Linked DNA regions of Homo sapiens: region 2 is linked to region 1. A link means that fine-mapping ties the variant in region 1 to the expression of a gene that starts in the linked region. Tissue or cell type: aorta. Region 1 holds a variant in brackets; the other region holds the start of a gene. All regions are shown on one strand. Distances are between the middles of the regions.

Region 1 (8,000 bases):
CAACATAGGGAGACCCTGTCTCTACAAAACAAAACAAAGACCATAACTATGGAAAAACCTAATGCTACAGTAACTGATGTCATTCATGTAACTCATGTTGTGTAATGTTTTCCTAGAAATTTCAAGGTAAAGATGTCGGGGTTAAGTGTTTGATATATCCCAGTCACTGTGACAGTTTTGACTCTTCACGCCTCCAAAAATTGTTTTCAGCCCAGAAACATTTGAGAGGCTTTTAAAGTGGAAAGAACTGCCTTTATACAATTTACAAATCATTTCTCTTCCCTCCGAAGACACAGATGACAGGAAAATCACTTACTCCATTAAAGTTCCTTTTCAGAATTAATCTGGGCTGGAGCCACAAAGAATTTTGTTTTGGTCCTCTTAAAGCCAAAGGTCATAGTAATATATAAACAGAATGGAATGTTTTGCATTAATGACATGTTTGAGAAAAGTAATTTAAGCTTTTGCTTTTTAGATGTCATACTTGTAACACCACAGATCGAAATGCCATATGTGTGAACTGCATTAAGAAGTGCCATCAGGGACATGATGTAGAGTTTATTAGACATGATAGGTATGTAGCACACTTGCTTGATATATTACCCAATTACTTTCCCCCTCACTTTTCTAATATTTGGGTTTCATTTTGCTTTAGGTTTTTCTGTGACTGTGGTGCTGGAACACTGTCTAATCCTTGTACATTAGCTGGTGAGCCTACACATGATACAGATACACTATATGACTCTGCTCCACCTATAGAATCTAATACATTGCAGCACAACTGAATTCCTTCCCTAAAGAAAAAGTCCTGCCATTGTAACATCATAACTTAAAACACTTTTTTGGAAGAAGATTTAAAATATTTGCCCATGCTACAGGAAGAGACTGTATTAAAAATGGATACACAAGGTCAGTTGACACTATGAAGCTCAAGCTACCAAAAAGAAAGTGGCAATATATTGACTCAGGATCTCAAAGCTGGGTGTTTTAGCATTACTGTGTAAAGACTTGAAGGGACAGAAGTGAAGAAAATAAGCTGCAATTTTGTACAGATACCAACTTCTGAAAAGCTGGTGTTTTTACAACTAGCATTGAATGCAGTCCAATTTGCAGTAGTAATCTTCAATAGACAAGCAGCTTTGTTGCTGCCTTTATGGACATGGGTACCAATTGCTTTTGTAATATGGTAAAAATGTGAGCTAGCACTTCTGCGTTCCTTTTGATTTTTTTTTTTTAACATGTATTCAGATTGAGAAATATGATTTTAATGCTTTAATCTCATGTAGTTTGTTTTTAATTTCAAGCAAAATCTTACTGTACTTGAATGTGCCCTGTTTTGTTAGCACACCTAGACTTGCTGTAACTGTACTCATGTCCCAGTATGTACGTTCTTTCTATGAAAGAGAAAACACTAATCTTAAATTATATCCAGCAATGTTTCTGGTATCCTTTAAGAAAAGTTAAGACTATTATTTCCTTCCCTTCCCTGTGCAGCATTCAAAATCACCCCTAGAAAAAGTGAGTGTTTTAATGAGACTTCCTAGGAAGGGATGCACTGTAAAACAAAAGTATTCTTGTAACTCAGTTTTGTGAAAGGTAAAAAACTACTATGTTTTAAGTACACTTTAGAAAGTCTCTTCAAAACAAACAGTCCTGTATTTGAACTCTGTTCATAGTTTTTTTTTGAACAGTTTAGACAAAACTGCTGGAAATTAAACCAATTTCCTGCATTAAGCTGAGACAAGTATATATACAGCCCTATACAGTTTCATAGCTTTTCCTCCCCCATTTATGTGTATTGGTGACAGTGGGTATAAAACAGCCTGAAAGTGTATGCATGTACCATAACATCTAGACTTAATATATTGTGGAGTATTCAATAACCATTATGTAGAAGGTAGATAAGAATTAAAAGGGTTTAATTTCCTAGAAAGAAAATGGAAAAATGGTCATTTTTAAAAAATAAAGTTTATTAGATCATAATGTTGTCTGAATTTACCACCTTTGTCAGAAGTCAACTCAAAGCTTCCAATGTAGTCAGTCTATAATTCCTTAATCAAAGTCAGCAATTTATGGACAGCTTCAGCATCTACAGTTGACCTTTCACTAGCCAGGCAAACTTCCCTTAAAATTAAAAAAAAAAAAAAAAAAGTTTTTTTGTTTTTTCATAGTGCATCATCCCTTCCCCTTTTACTGTTTCTTTGAAACTTAAGGTCAGTTAGTTATAATTCCATTATAGTTAGTTAGTTACCGAAATAATCGTAGTGACTGATTCATCTTCTCAAATTCTCTTGCTTTTCTATGTCCCTTTTGAATAACTTCCTCTGGGAGATTAGCAAGCCTTGCTGCATTAAAGCCATAGCTTTTAGGACAAGCTCCCTTAATGAATTTATAGAGGAACGTAATAGTCTCCTGGCTGGGGTCTTCACATTCATTTTCTACCATGCATGCCTTAAGAAAGAAAAATATTAGCGATACATGTGCTAGCAAGAGAAGTGCCCTCTCAAAAAACCGAATTTGTGGAAAAAAACAATTTGCACATACCATATGTCCTAGGCGCACAGCAACATTTTGAGAATAATCTTCTACTAATGAATGGTAGTGAGTTGAAAATAATGTACGACATTTTATAGTCTCAGCAAGTTCTTTAACAACTGCATTTGCTATTGCCGTCCCATCAAATGTTGCAGTACCTCTTCCTGTTAAAGTAAAATATGCATAAGGAAGTAACTCAAAGGAATTAAAACAAAAAAGGAATTAAAACAAAAATGCTAGGACAGAAAAGCAACATCGGTTAGTACATCCACGTCTAAAAGCATTCTATAAATAGGCCTTGTTTAGCTACACGAGTCTGCTTAGCAGCCCATGGGGAGTGAGGTTTCTTTTAAAGAAAATACAGTATCGCTCAAGGTCATAAACTTCCTGAGTCCTCCTATTAGTGTTCTCATCCCCGTAGTATAACAAATGTTTTATTACAACTAAACAGTGTAAGGCCTAATAATTAATGGGTAATCAAAAACCTTTCACAATATCACCTTTTATCTCCAACTATCGGTCTGTGCCACAATGGTGAGTGCGTGCTCTAAAAACATTCATATTGTTTAAATGTACTTCAGATAATCTTCTATAAAAATAGTTATTTGTACAAATGTTTTTAAGATAGATAGTCTTCAAATGAGAAGTTTAATGTCTTACCTAATTCATCCACAAGCACCAGAGAATGTGCTGTTGCATGCATGAGTATGCTGGCAGTTTCACTTAATTCAACAAAAAATGTACTTTCACCTTAAAAAAAAAAAAATCACAAATGAATACTCATTTTGCAAATCATATTACATAAATTCATCTTCTAGGTTATATAGCTATCATGAGCTACACATATTGGTATAAAAGATTAAATCTCATTAAGAGACTATGCAATTATTGGCCGGGCACGGTGGCTCACGCCTGTAATCCCAGCACTTTGGGAGGCCGAGGCAAGCAGATCACCTGAGGTCAGGAGTTAAGAGACCAGCCTAACATGGTGAAACCCCGCTTCTACTAAAAATACAAAAAATTAGCTGGGCGTGATGGCATGCGCCTGTAATCCCAGCTACTCGAGAGGCTGAGGCAGGAGAATCACTTGAACCTGGAAGCAGAGGTTGCAGTGAGCCAAGATCGTGCCATTGCACTCCAGCTTGGGCAACAAGAGGGAAACTCCATCTCAAAAAAAAAAAAAAGAGAGAGAGACTATGCAGTTCTTAAAAAGTGATGTTTTTAAAGTAACACCAGAAAAATCAAATATTAGATTTAAAAGGCTCATATACAAGAAGCAAATATCTTTTATCACATCTAAATGACTGAATGAGAACTTAAGTGGGAAACAAAAAACTCACCTGACATTATTCTGTCTGAGGCACCAAGTCTAGTAAACACTCTATCAATTGGTGTGAGCCTGCACACTTCAGCAGGGACGTAACAACCCATCTGGGCCATTACAGCTAATAAGCCAGCCTGTGAATGAGGGAGGAAAAGGTCTTTTATGACTGGTAGTAACAGTTTCATAAACTTTTGTCTTTCTTATGAACCCTTACGTAAGAGCTAGGCACTCTAAAACAACTTTCACAATCACATGTACGTTGGTTCTGTTCTGAAATCCATTTGCTAACATGGAGAAAGTTGAGGCTAAGAGAGACAAGAGGCATAGGGCCTCACCTGGCCTTTAAAACATCAGAGCCTGCTTACCAACCCACTACCCTAGTGATTCTCAACGCTGGCCAGAATAGAATCACCTAGGAGCTCTTTAAAACTACTGAGATGCCTAGAATCAATTCCAATCAAGTGAATCCATGTCAGGATGGAATCTCTGCACCTTTTTTTTTTTTTTTACACGTTGTCACATTCTTTCAGGTGATTCTGATTTAAAGAAAAAGTTTGGAAATCACTATACACACTATACTGCCTCTCTCTAGCAAACTAGGTGAACAGAAGTATACTATAATGCAGGAGAGCAGCGGGGACCAGCCAACTACTACTATTTCTTACAACCTTTTAAAAATATAAAAAACTTTACAAGTTCTGTGGCTGGTCAACCCCTGGTTATAAAGAGAAGATAAATACAATGCCATAAAAAATTTTTTTAAAAATGAGCTAGGCATGATGGTGTACATCTGTAGTCCCAGCTACTGGG[G/A]AGGCTGAGGCAGGAGGAAGGGTTGAACCTGGGAGTTCGAGGCTGCAGTGAGCTGTGATGGTGCCACTGCACTTCAGCCTTGGCAACAACAAAAAAAAAAGGGCCAGCATGTCATCCCTAAAGAGCAGTTTTCAACAGTTGCTAGAGGTCATGAACTATATTTGCTTTCTTACCTCATTTGCATTTCTGCAAATGAGTCTAATTTAAGGATAAACCTGTAACATTTTCATCTTTTCATACAGCCTTTGTATTTTTGTTCACTATGAATATACCTACCTTCTGAGGAAATGAATTCAAGTCAAAGGGCCTCATGACCTGAATGACTGACCTCCTTCCCCTTTTTAACATATATTCCCCTTAACATTAAGCATCGATGTTTCAGCTAAATATAATTCTCAATTTTATAACACAGGGAGTAATTTCCCTTTGCTTCCTATTAAGTCACTGGCTGACTTTTATGTAACTGTGTTTGGAAAATGATCACCTAAGTATGTTATTCCTAATGTCACAAATGACTTTCTGATAACAAAACTTTAAGAATCAGTTACCTGTCTCATAAGCGTAGACTTGCCCCCCATATTTGGTCCAGTAACAAGCACACAATAGGCTTTGCCATTTTCCTGCTCCTCTTCCTCACAGCCTATTAGAATGTCATTAGGAATAAAATCATCTCCAAAAAAAGTCTTCGTAATGCAAGGATGGCGTGATCCTTTAAGCTCTAAGAAGGGGGGGGTATCTTCCGGCAACAGAATTACTGGGCGACACATAGGACCATCACCCCCTCGACTATAGTTAGCCAGGCACAGTAAAACATCTGTTAAAAGAGAGGGTAAAAGTGAGGCTTCATCGTTTGGGGGTTTTATCAGCCTAAGTGTTTTATAGGTCTTCTTTATATAACACATTTCATTATAAGACATAACTTTCAATTACAGTCCAACGATCTCCCCCATCAAAATACTTACCCTCTAACATCTGGACCATAGAAGTGCCAAGGGAAAGCTAAAAGATAGAGCAGAGGCCAGGCACGGTGGCTCACGCCTGTAATCCCAGCACTTCAGGAGGCCTAGGCGGGCAGAGTTCACGAGGTCAGCAGTTCAGGACCAGCCTGACCAACATGGTGAAACCTCGTCTCTACTAAAAATACAGAAATTAGCAGTGCCTAATACACGTGGCATATGCCTGTAATCCCAGCTACGCAGGAGGCTGAGGCAGGAGAATCACTTGAACCTGGGAGGCAGAGGTTGCAATGAGCCAAGATCGCACCAATGCACTCCAGCCTGGGCGACAGAGAGACTCTGTCTCAAAAAACAAAACAAAACAAACACAAAACAGCAGAAACATGCTACACTTAAGCCTCTTACTTAGCAGAATGTGCCAAAGTTGGCACACTGATATGAAAACAATCTCTGAAGACTGGTTTTTGAACACCTGTGCTGAGGAAGAATTTTAAATTACCCAGTAACCAAATGCAGCACACTAAAAGGAAGTATATTATTCTGTTCCATTAGATACTTGCGTTCAGATCAAAATAGTTTTGTGTTACTGTGTTACAAATTCAAGTAAACTACCATTATTTAAAAAAAAAAAAAAAAAAAAAACAGGGCTGGGCGCAGTGGCTCATGCGTGTAATCCCAGCTCTTTCGGAGATCAAGGCGGGCAGATCGCTTTGAGGTCAGGAATTCAAGAACAGCCTGGCCAACACGGGAAAAACCCTGTCTCTACCAAAAATACAAAAATTAGCCAGGTGTGATGGTGACCACCTGTAGTCCCAGCTACTCAGGAGGCTGAGGAAGGAGAATCACTTGAACCCAGCAGTTTGAGGCTGCAGTGAGCTAGTCATCCCATTGTACTCCAGTCTGAAAACAGCAAGACCCCGTCTCTAAAAAATTAAAAAAAATATACAACATAAACCTAAACTATAAAACAGCAATGGTTCCAGGTAATGTTGGCCGTGACATTTAAAGAACAAAATTGCTTATGAAGTTGAGATGGTTGCCAAATTGTAAATTCCTAACTCAGGGCTTTGAAAAATCAATTGTAGGAAAGAATCTTTGACAATTTGGCTACAGAAAAAAGGAATGATTCTTTTAAAATTGTATGCAGATGGATTCACTGAAATGCAAAGGTTGTAATAAAACAATTTTTAAATGTTGGATCAACAGATAGTGTAACAAAGCACCTTGAAACAGTATTCACCAAATAATAAAAAGCTCAACTTTTTATTGATAAATAAAATTCGATCTAAAATAAAGCCTGTCTCATGAAGTATAACACATTTAAAAATCTTTTGGGCCGGGAGCGGTGGCTCATGCCTGTAATCCCAGCACTTTTGGGAGACTGGAGGATCACTTGAGGCCAGGAGTTCAAGACCAGCCTGGGCAACATAGGGAAGCTTCAACTCCCTTCCCCCTTCCCCCACCAAAAAAATAAAGCAGGGCACGCCGGTGCTTACCTGTAAATCCTAGCTACCTAAGAGGCTGACACGAGAGGTCTGTCCTGGGTAACAGAGCAAGACACTGTCTAAAAACAAAAACCTTTTGTTCGATTATTAAAGACTGAAGAAAGGGCCAGGCGCAATGGGTCATGCCTGTAACCTCAGCACTTTGGGAAGCCGAGGCAGGAGGATCACTTGAGCCCAGGAGTTCAAGACCAGTCCTGGCAACACAGTGAGACCCCATCTCTCTACAAACATTTAAATATTAGCCATGCATGGTGGTGCATATCTGTAATCTCAGCTACTTGGGAGGCTGAGGTGGAAAGATCACTTAAGCCTGGGAGGTCGAGGCTGCAGTAGCCATGGTTGTGTCACCATATTCTAGCCTGGGCAACAGAGCAAGACCATGTCTCAAAAAAAAAAAAAAAAAAAAAAAAACTGAAGAAAGGCCAAAGGGCTACTAAGATAAAAGCGAGTTTCAAGTAACTTAAATTGCTGTGGGCAGCCTAGTCAGGATGCAAATATGTATATGCATGTCAAAATATGTACCATATATACCTTATTACTTATTTTTAGGGATAATATACAGCTGGCAAACAGCACTACTTATCAAAGCCTGAGAACAAGCTTGTTCAAAGTCTTACCCAACACTGCGATACACTCTACAGCAGACTGCCAGTCCTTGTAATTTTTATCAAAGTTATAGAACAGTCGCCGCATGCAGTCCTTCAATGATACATCCCTCCGTTCTTCAGCATTTATGAGATTAGCCAACTTCTTTTCAATAGTTTTGGTCCAGTATCGTTTACAGCCCTTCTTGGTAGATTTCAACTCGTATTCTTCTGGCAAATTGCGAGTGGTGAAATTCTCAGGAATTTCCAGCTGGTAACGGTTCCT
Region 2 (8,529 bases), 22 kb after region 1:
TTCAACAACAACAACAAAGCCATAAACTAAATGAAAGAACTCATTGTGAAAGAAGACATTTATATCACACACAAATGACAAAGAACTAGGAAAAAAAAAAGAAACAGCAAAAGACAAACACTTCAGCACAAGAAGAAATCTAAATGACAAACATTAAAAGATGCTCGGACAGACACGGTGGCTCACGGCCAGGTGCGGTGGTTCACGCCTGTAATCCCAACACTTTGGGAGGCTGAGGTGGGTGGATCACCTGAGGTCAGGAGTTCACGACTGGCCTGACCAACATGGTGAAACCCGTCTCTACTATAAACACAAAAATTAGCTGGGCGTGGTGGCAGGCACCTGTAATACCAGGTACTTGAGAGGATGAGGCAGGAGAATCGCTGGAACCCAGGAGGCGGAGGTTGCAGTGAGCTGAGACCACACCACTGCACTCCAGCTTGGGCAACAAGAGTGAAATTCCGTCTCAAAAAAAAAAAAAATACGCTCAACATGTTTTAAGGCTTAAATGATTCATGGAGTAAGTCCGAATGTCTCTGTAGCTCATCAGACTGTTCATGATTGGATCTCTGCTTAACTTCTCCAATGCTCCCTCCTCCTCCTTTCATCCTACCCACAATTTGCAGACCTTCCTCTTCCTGAACCAGCTTCCCACTCTCACTATAATCTGTCTAAGCTTATTTGTCCTTCTGGTTTCGGTTTACAGAGCTGAGAGCCTAGCCTGACCCGCATCCTCTCCGTCCCCTTTCCACTTGGAGTCTACAATTGCCTCTTTGCTTTGTCCTGTTCATGGTTGTATCCAGGATCCATAATGCCTAATGCTGTGCTCGGCAGAGTGATCTAGACACTGCAGTTTCTTTAGAAACCTAGTATCAAATGCCCATCTTTCTTGAATACCCTGGAATCCTCTCCATAACGGGAGGTGAAATGTATACGTTTTATTTTTACAAGTCTCTTAAACTCAACCTCAAGAAACAAATAACATACGCTATTCAATATGAATGTAAAGTACATCCTTACAATAAATACACCCGTTTGGTTTGGATTCAACAATCAATTCATGCTCAAGTAAACAATACGTCATGCTTTTCTAACCAGGAGTTTGTTATTGCGGATGCTGGCTCTGTTCCCCACAAGCATATTCTACTAATGCACAACTATATATATTTAAACTGCGGGAAAGGGTCGCTTAAACAAGGGTAACACTATAATTACACTTAGAAAAATCTCAGAATTCCTTTAGGACACTTTAAACTGGATTTAAATGGATTTGAAATCCATTACTCAAAACCACTAACTAGCGGCCGGGCACGGTGGCTCACACCTGTAATCCCAGCACTTTGGGAGGCTGAAGTGGGTGGACCACTTGAGGTCAGCAGTTTCAAGACCAGCCTGGCCAACATGGTGAAACTCCATGGTGAAAAATCAGCCGGACCGCGGTGGGCACACCCGTAATCCCAGCTACTCGGGAAGCTGAGGCAGGAGAATCACTTGAACCCGGCGGGCAGAGGTTGCAGTGAGCCGAGAAAGCGCCACAGCACTCCAGCCTGGGCGACAGAGCGAGACTCCATTTCAAAACAAAACCAAACAAAAAACACGAACTGGCTCTTATCTTGAATGAGTTATTTTTTCTGAGCCTTTATTTCTTCGTTTGTTCAAATAGCGACCATTAAACTTTGTGTTTAGTATCTGACAAACGGCCGGGCTCGGTGGTTCATGCCTGTAATCCCAGCACTTTGGTAGGCCAATGCGGGCCGATCAAGAGGTCAGGAGTTCGATACCAGCCTGGCCAACATAGTGAAACCCGTCTCTACTAAAAATACAAAAATTAGCCAGGCGTGGTGGGGCGCACCTGTAGTCCCAGCTACTTGGGAGGCTGAGGCAGGATAATCTCTTGATCCAGAGACAGAGGTTGTGGTGAGCCAAGAACGCGCCACTGCACTCTAGCCTGGACAAAAGAGCAAGACTCTGTCTCAAAATACATATATATGTATCTGGCAAACAGCAAAAGCAAGCTTTTCAAAATGTCGCCAGCTGCCCGGATAAAAAGCCCTAAACAGACCGGGCGCGGTGGCTAGCGCCTGTAATCCCAGCACTTTGAGGCCGAGGCGGGTGGATCACCTGAGGTCGGGAATTCCGAGACTAGCCTGACCAACATGGAGAAACCCCGTCTCTACTAAAAATACAAAATTGGCGGGGTGTGGGGGCGCATTCCTGTAATCCCGACTACTCGGGAGGCTGAAGCTGGGGAATCGCTTGAAGCCGGGACGCGGAGATTGCGGTGAGCTGAGATCGCGCCATTGCACTCCAGCCTGGACTTGAGCGAAACTCTCTCTCAAAAAGGAAAAAAAAAAAAAAGCACTTAACTGCCCATAAAGTGAGGACAACTCCCGACAGGCTTCCCCGGAGTCACTCACGTCCACACATCTTTGTCCAGCGCCCGATTAAGGCCTCTAAAAGCCCAGTGGTGCCCCATAAAAATTACACTATTTCATAAAATAAAATATTTTCCACTCGACACGAATTTCCACATACGTCAAAATATTCTATCTTCGTCTCGGTGCACGTGCAGCCTACCTACCGAAGGACCCAGCCGGATCCCAGCACTTCGGCTCCCCACGGCCCCGCCCCGCCCAATTAGGCCCCGCGGTCCCCATGGTGACACACCCCCCCGCGCTCGCAGCTCGTGGCCCACCCCCTCGGCGGCCCCTCACCTAGGCCGAAGGCCCACCGTCCCCAAGGCGTCTCGGCGACCGCGGCTCTTAACTACCTCTAAGTGTCTACCTCGATCGACTACTGGAGCCCCAACTCACTATCTCCGCGCCGGCCGAGGAACCTCCTTTCGCACCCCACACCACCGGACTCTCCCCGTTCGGCCTCCCGCAGGCATTCCTCCTTCCCGCCACCCCGCCCCCCGCCCCGCCCACCAAGTGGGCCGGGCGCCTTCCCCTTCTCGCCCCACCCCCAGTGCTCCCACCTCCCAGGCCCCCTCCCCACCCGGAGCTGCGCGCGTCGCCCCTTCCTTAGCCCAGCACCCCCACCTGGCGGGACGCGTCTCCTCCCTCCAAAAGGCCCGAACTCTCCGCGTCTCCCCTGCAGCCCTCTTCCTGCACAGCCTCTCTCCTCCGACCCTGTTTACAAGCTACACCCCCAAATGCTCCAGACTCGACCCCTGCACTCATTCAAGCCAACTCTGCGGCCCCGCCTCCTCCGAGCCCAGGGCCAGGCCGTGCACCCCCCCAACCCCCTGTGCGAGCCTCCCCTCGCCGGGTTCCAAGCGCCCCGCCGCTATGCCCCCGCCTTCGACCCCACCCCCACCCCGCTACCTGGTGGGGGCAGCAGGCGCTACCGATCTCCGCAGCCCTCCGTTGAGGTTCTTCGCCTTGGGCGGTGACGCGGAGCGCGCCAAGGGCCTGGGCCCAGGCCCAGCCTCGCTCCAGGCCGCATCCCCGCCTGGGGAAGGAGAGGCCCCGGGGGCAGCGGCGGCACGGCCGCCTTCGCGTGAGGCCCTGGCCGAGGCCTTGTTGGCATCACTCAGCGCCGGAGACTTGGGGAAGAAGCTGTACAGGGTGCTCTGTCGCGACATACCGACAGCCGGCAAGGCCCAACCGTTCTGTCGGACGGAGCTCCTAAAAGCACCGCATCTACCGCGCGGCTCCTGCTGGCGGGAAATCTGGGGGGAGGCGCGCTCCGCCGGAGGAACCCGGGCCCCAGTGGCCAATCAACAGGCGCCTCGCCGTGCGCGGGCGGTGCGCGCCAGGCCCCGCCCCCGGGCGCGCGGCGACGTGGGGAAGGGCGGGGCTGGCACACTGGTGGGTAGGGGCGGGGCTGGCACGCTGGCGGTGAGGGGCCCGCCCTGCCGCCGACGCCTGGGCCCCGCGCGGGGAACTGCTGAGCTCCCCTTCCCTCACGCCGCGGGGCTGGCCGGGCCGGAACACTCCGACCCGGGGTTAGTTGCGGCCGCGGGGCTAGCAGGCTCGGAAAGCCCTGCCTCTCTGGAGCGGAAGCGGGAACAGCGGGGGCGCGCACCGCCCGGGCGGGGATAACCGGGGGGACCCGAAAGGCCTCGGAAAGGGGCTCGCGGGGAGAAACGCGTCCAGCGCTCGCGTGACCTCCTGCCGTTAGAGCATTTTCGCAAGGAGACGGAGCGAAAGGGACCAAACTTTAGTCAGCAGTTCACCTTCACGTTGTATTCTCAAGATTTGTATAGAGTAGGCACTTGGTAAACGCTAAATGAATATTGTAATAGCATTCGTTAGCGATGCTGTTGTGTATGGTGAAAGCCTGCAGCTGTACAAAGTTTTCCTTTGCCAGGCACTGATCCCAGCATTTTACATCTGGTAACTAAATCGATCCTCTCAATAACCTGTGACGTAAGTACTTAAGGGCCACAGTCCGTTATCTGAGCCCTTTGACCCAGGTGTGTCTTTACAGGATTTTTCAAATTTTAGAAAGCTAAGAGACTATGAGAGGCCGGGCGCAGTGGCTCACGCCTGTAATCCCAGCACTTTGGGATGCCGAGGCGGGCGGATCACCTGAGGTCAGGCGTTGAAGACCAGCCTAGTCAACATGGTGAAACCCCCGTCTCTACTAAAAATCCAAAAATTAGCCGGGCGTGGTGGCATGCGCCTGTAATCCCAGCTACTTGGGAGGCTGAGGCAGGAGAATAACTTGAACCTGGGAGGCAGCGTTTGCAGTGAGCCAAGGTCGCGCCACTGCACTCCAGCCTGGGCGACAAGAGCGAAACTCCGTCTCAAAAAAAAAAGAAAGAAAGCTAAGAGGCTATGAGAATAAAAAGGTTCTATTCAAATTCAAGAAAGATAGTGGAAGACAGACAATTGTTTGTCCCCTTATCCAGATTGTGAAATCCAGATTGCCGGAAACCAGTCACAATCAACAGCTGTACATTGGTAAAAACCTATGTAAAATTAGTTGTTTGCCTTGTTCTTGGAGACTGTTCTGCCAGAAGGTTCTCCTTTGCTAGGCAAGTAATAAAATCAATCTAAAAAAAAAAGGCGGGGGCCGGGCGCAGTGGCTCACGCCTGTAGTCCCAGCACTCGGCACTTCGGGGGGGGGGCGGAGGTGGGCGGATCACGAGGTCAGGAGATCGAGACCATCCTGGCTAACACAGTGAAACCCCGCCTCTACTAAAAATACAAAAAATTAGCCTGGCGTGGTAGCACACGCCTGTAGTCCCAGCTACTGGGGAGGCTGAGGTAGGAGAATGGTGTGAACCCGGGAGGCGGAGCTTGCAGTGAGCCGAGATCGCGCCTCTGCACTCCAGCCTGGGCGACAGAGCAAGACTCCCTCTCAAAAAAAAAAAAAGAATATTGCCAAAGGTGGTATGTGCTAAGAAAAATACAGTATGCTTCACGAATTTGCATTTCATCCCTGTGCAGGGGTCATTCCAATTTTGGTATATGTGCTACCCAAGCAAGCACAGTGAAACCAACTGTTTGAGATAATATTTGAGAGTTGGTCTCTTTCCCCCACCGGCATACGTAAACACCCCCAGAGAGTCTGGGGGAACATGCTGAAATCAAACATGCAGTAAAACTTACATGCTTATTCATACTAAGTAGAAAGAATACAGAATATAGACTATAAATAGCCTCAGGTCAAAATTTGCTACCAAATGAGTTTACCCCCAAACTTTTGGTTTACAGAGCTTTTTGGATTTCAGAATTGCACGTAAGAGGCTGGTTATCCTGTATCTCCATATCATGGATGAAGCTGAGGCACAGTTGGGTCAAGTAACTTGCCCATGACTGCATAGCTAGGAAGTGGTGGAGCCTGGATTTAAACTCAAGGAAGCTGGTTCTGGAGCCCTATGTTGTTAACAGAAATACTATAATACTTCCAATTTAACACCATTTTATCTCATTTAGTTATTACAACCACCTTATACTAGGTTGAACTATGTGAAATTGCCAAAATTTGCCCTTTTTAAAATTTTTTTGAGACAGGGTCTGGCTCTGTCACAGAGGCTGGAGTATAGTGGCGTGATCTTGGCTTACTGTAGCCTCAACCTCCCAGGCTTAAGTAATCCTCTCACCTCAGCCTCCTGAGTACCTGGGACCACAGGCCCGCAACACCATGCCCAGCTAATTTTTTTTTTTTTTAATTGAGGAGTCTTATTCTGTCACCCAGGCTGGAGTACAGTGACGCCATCTTGGTTCACTGCAACCCCTGCTTTGCGGGTTCAGGCAATTCTCATGCCTCAGCCTCCTGAGTGCTAGGATTACTGGTGCCTACCACCATGCCCAGCTAATTTTTGTTTTTTAGTAGAGACACGGTTTCACCATGTTGGCCTGCCTGATCCCAAACTCCTGACCACAAGTGACCCGCCTGCCTCAGCCTCCCAAAGTGCTGGGATTACAGGTATGAGCCACTGTGCCCGGTGCCCTGCTAGTATTTTAAAAATTTTCTGTAGAGACGAAGTTTCACTATGTTGCCCAAGCTGGACCTTTTTGGTTTTTTGGTTGTTTTGTTTTGAGACAGGGTCTTACTCTGTCTCCCAGACTGGTGTGCAGTAGTGCAGTCTCAGCTCACCACAACTTTCACCTCCCAAGCTCAAGCAATTCTCCTTCCTCAGCCTCCTGAATAGCTGGGATTACCGGCACGCGCTACTACTGCCCAGCTAATTTTTGTATTTTTAGTAGAGACAGGATTTCACCATGTTGGCCAGGCTGGTCTCAAACTCCTGACCTCAAATGATCCTCCTGCCTCGGCCTCCCAAAATGTTGGGATTACAGGCGGGAGCCACTGCGCCCAGCCAAGCTGGACCGTTTTTGAAGTACAAATATTAATATTTAATTCATTTTGGTTCAACTGAATATAACGTTATTCTCTTTTTGTTGTTGTTGTTTGTTTTTTTGGGGATGGAGTCTTGCTCTGTCACCGAGGCTGGAGTGCAATGGCACGATCTTGGCTCACCACAACCTCCGCCTCCCAGGTTAAGGCAATTCTCCTGCCTCAGTCTCCTGAGTAGCTGGGGTTACAGGCACCAACACACCCAGCTAAGTTTTGTATTTTTAGTAGAGATGGGGTTTCACCATGTTGGCCAGGCTGGTCTCAAACTCCTGACCTCGTGATCCGCCCATCTCTGCCTCCCAAAGTGCTGGGATTATAGATGTGAGCCACTGCGCCCGGCCGATGTTATTCTTTTACAGGGAGGAAATGGAGGTTCAGAGGGGATGCGCCAGTTGTAAGAGGTTAAGAGCCTGGGCTTTGGGTTAAATGGAGAACTGAGCTCTGATCCTAGCTAGCCAAGCAGATAACTCGGAGCAATTAATACTTTTCTGAACTTGTTTCCTCGTCTTTGATAAGGACAGTAGTACCTATGGGCCAAATTTTGGAGGCTACAGTTAGATGCCTCCCACAAACTTCATTAAAAGACAAGAGAACACATGTATTATGTGGGGACACTCAGACCCCCAGAATTGGCATGAATGTTACTTGGAACTGAAGACATTTGAGAGCCAACAGATGCAGAAAGATGCCGTTTCAAAGCTTCCCTTATGCGACTAACAGCAGAAATTTCTGGGAGTGAAGCTGCCGTAAATCTCCTCTCTAGGGGAGTTTTAGTGGCCAGAAAAAAAGACAAAGACCACTTGCACCTGCAAAAACAAACATTCTTATCTCCCTTTTGTTCCCCCAGAAACCTATTTGTTCTTCCCATGGAAGGCTTTTTCTCCCTCCTCTTCCCCTATTAAATGGTATATATAAAGTAGATTTCGAGATTCAAGAAAAAAAAAGTTGTATAAATGCCAAATAACAGCCTCCTGGACTCACTTTTTTTTTCTGTGAACTCCTGCATGCATATCTGAATAAAAGTCTGTCTTTTTTTTTTTTTTTTTCTGAGACAGGGTCTCACTCTGTTGCCCAGGCTGATCCTCCAGCCTCAGCCTCCCAAGCAGCTAAGACTGCAGGTGTGCGTCCTCACACCCTGATAATTTTATTTTCTGTAGAGACTGGGTCTTGCTATGTTGCCCAGGCCGGTCTCCAACTCTTGGGCTCAAGCCCTTCTCTCTACTTGGCCTCCCAAAGTGCTAGGATTACAGGCCTGAGCCACCGTGCCCGGCCCTAAACTGTCTTTAGTCTGCAGTGCCCAACCAACACATACATTCCATGACTATATATGGGTTATTTTGAAAACTGAATAAAAATATTTTTCTTTTATATGTATTTTTTTTTCAAATGGCTACACTTAGTAAATTGCATAACAATCAATGGAGTTGTTTTGGCCTAGGAGATGTGGCAGGAAAGTACTAAGGTAGTAAATATACTAGGTGTTTGGGAACCTCTGGCCTACTGGTTAAGAGCTCTGTATTCAAAGTTTGTGTTCACATCCCAGCTGAGCTGCTTACTAAACTGCACGAGCTTGTTGGGCAAGTTATTTAGCCTGTGCCTCAGTTTCTACATCTGTAAAACAGGGATGATATTAACACTACCTTCTTCATGGGTTGTGCTAAGCATTGAGTGAAAGGGCATTATGAAGCCCTCAGCCCAGTGCTTGGCACGCCATAC

Which allele goes with the higher level. Positions count from the first base shown, and alleles are read on the strand shown. Sizes are in standard deviations (SD) of each study's normalised expression.
In carriers of allele A in region 1, the expression in aorta of the gene that starts at base 3,675 in region 2 tends to be higher than with G alone (small effect, 0.20 SD a copy in GTEx).

Evidence for each region. PIP is the estimated chance that this variant, and not a neighbour inherited with it, causes the effect.
Region 2: MSH6 starts here. The variant in region 1 is fine-mapped to the expression of MSH6 in aorta (GTEx, PIP above 0.99).

The regions. Positions count from the first base shown.
Region 1 is chr2:47,800,903-47,808,902 of GRCh38, reverse strand. It overlaps MSH6 (mutS homolog 6), which reads right to left. Exons shown (of 10, transcript NM_000179.3): 4 at 7,748-8,000; 5 at 5,218-5,483; 6 at 3,876-3,993; 7 at 3,196-3,285; 8 at 2,545-2,699; 9 at 2,252-2,451; 10 at 1,950-2,124. The coding sequence ends at 2,043. It overlaps FBXO11 (F-box protein 11), which reads left to right. Exons shown (of 23, transcript NM_001190274.2): 22 at 476-574; 23 at 656-1,983. The coding sequence ends at 785. Among named protein-coding and RNA genes, the nearest start is that of MSH6, 22 kb to the right of the region's middle. The variant G/A (reference allele first, on the strand shown) is at 4,670.
Region 2 is chr2:47,778,291-47,786,819 of GRCh38, reverse strand. It overlaps MSH6 (mutS homolog 6), which reads right to left and starts at 3,675. Exons shown (of 10, transcript NM_000179.3): 1 at 3,327-3,675. The coding sequence starts at 3,586. RefSeq lists silencers at 2,893-2,982, 3,183-3,342, 3,623-4,102, 5,253-5,434 and an enhancer at 4,233-4,302.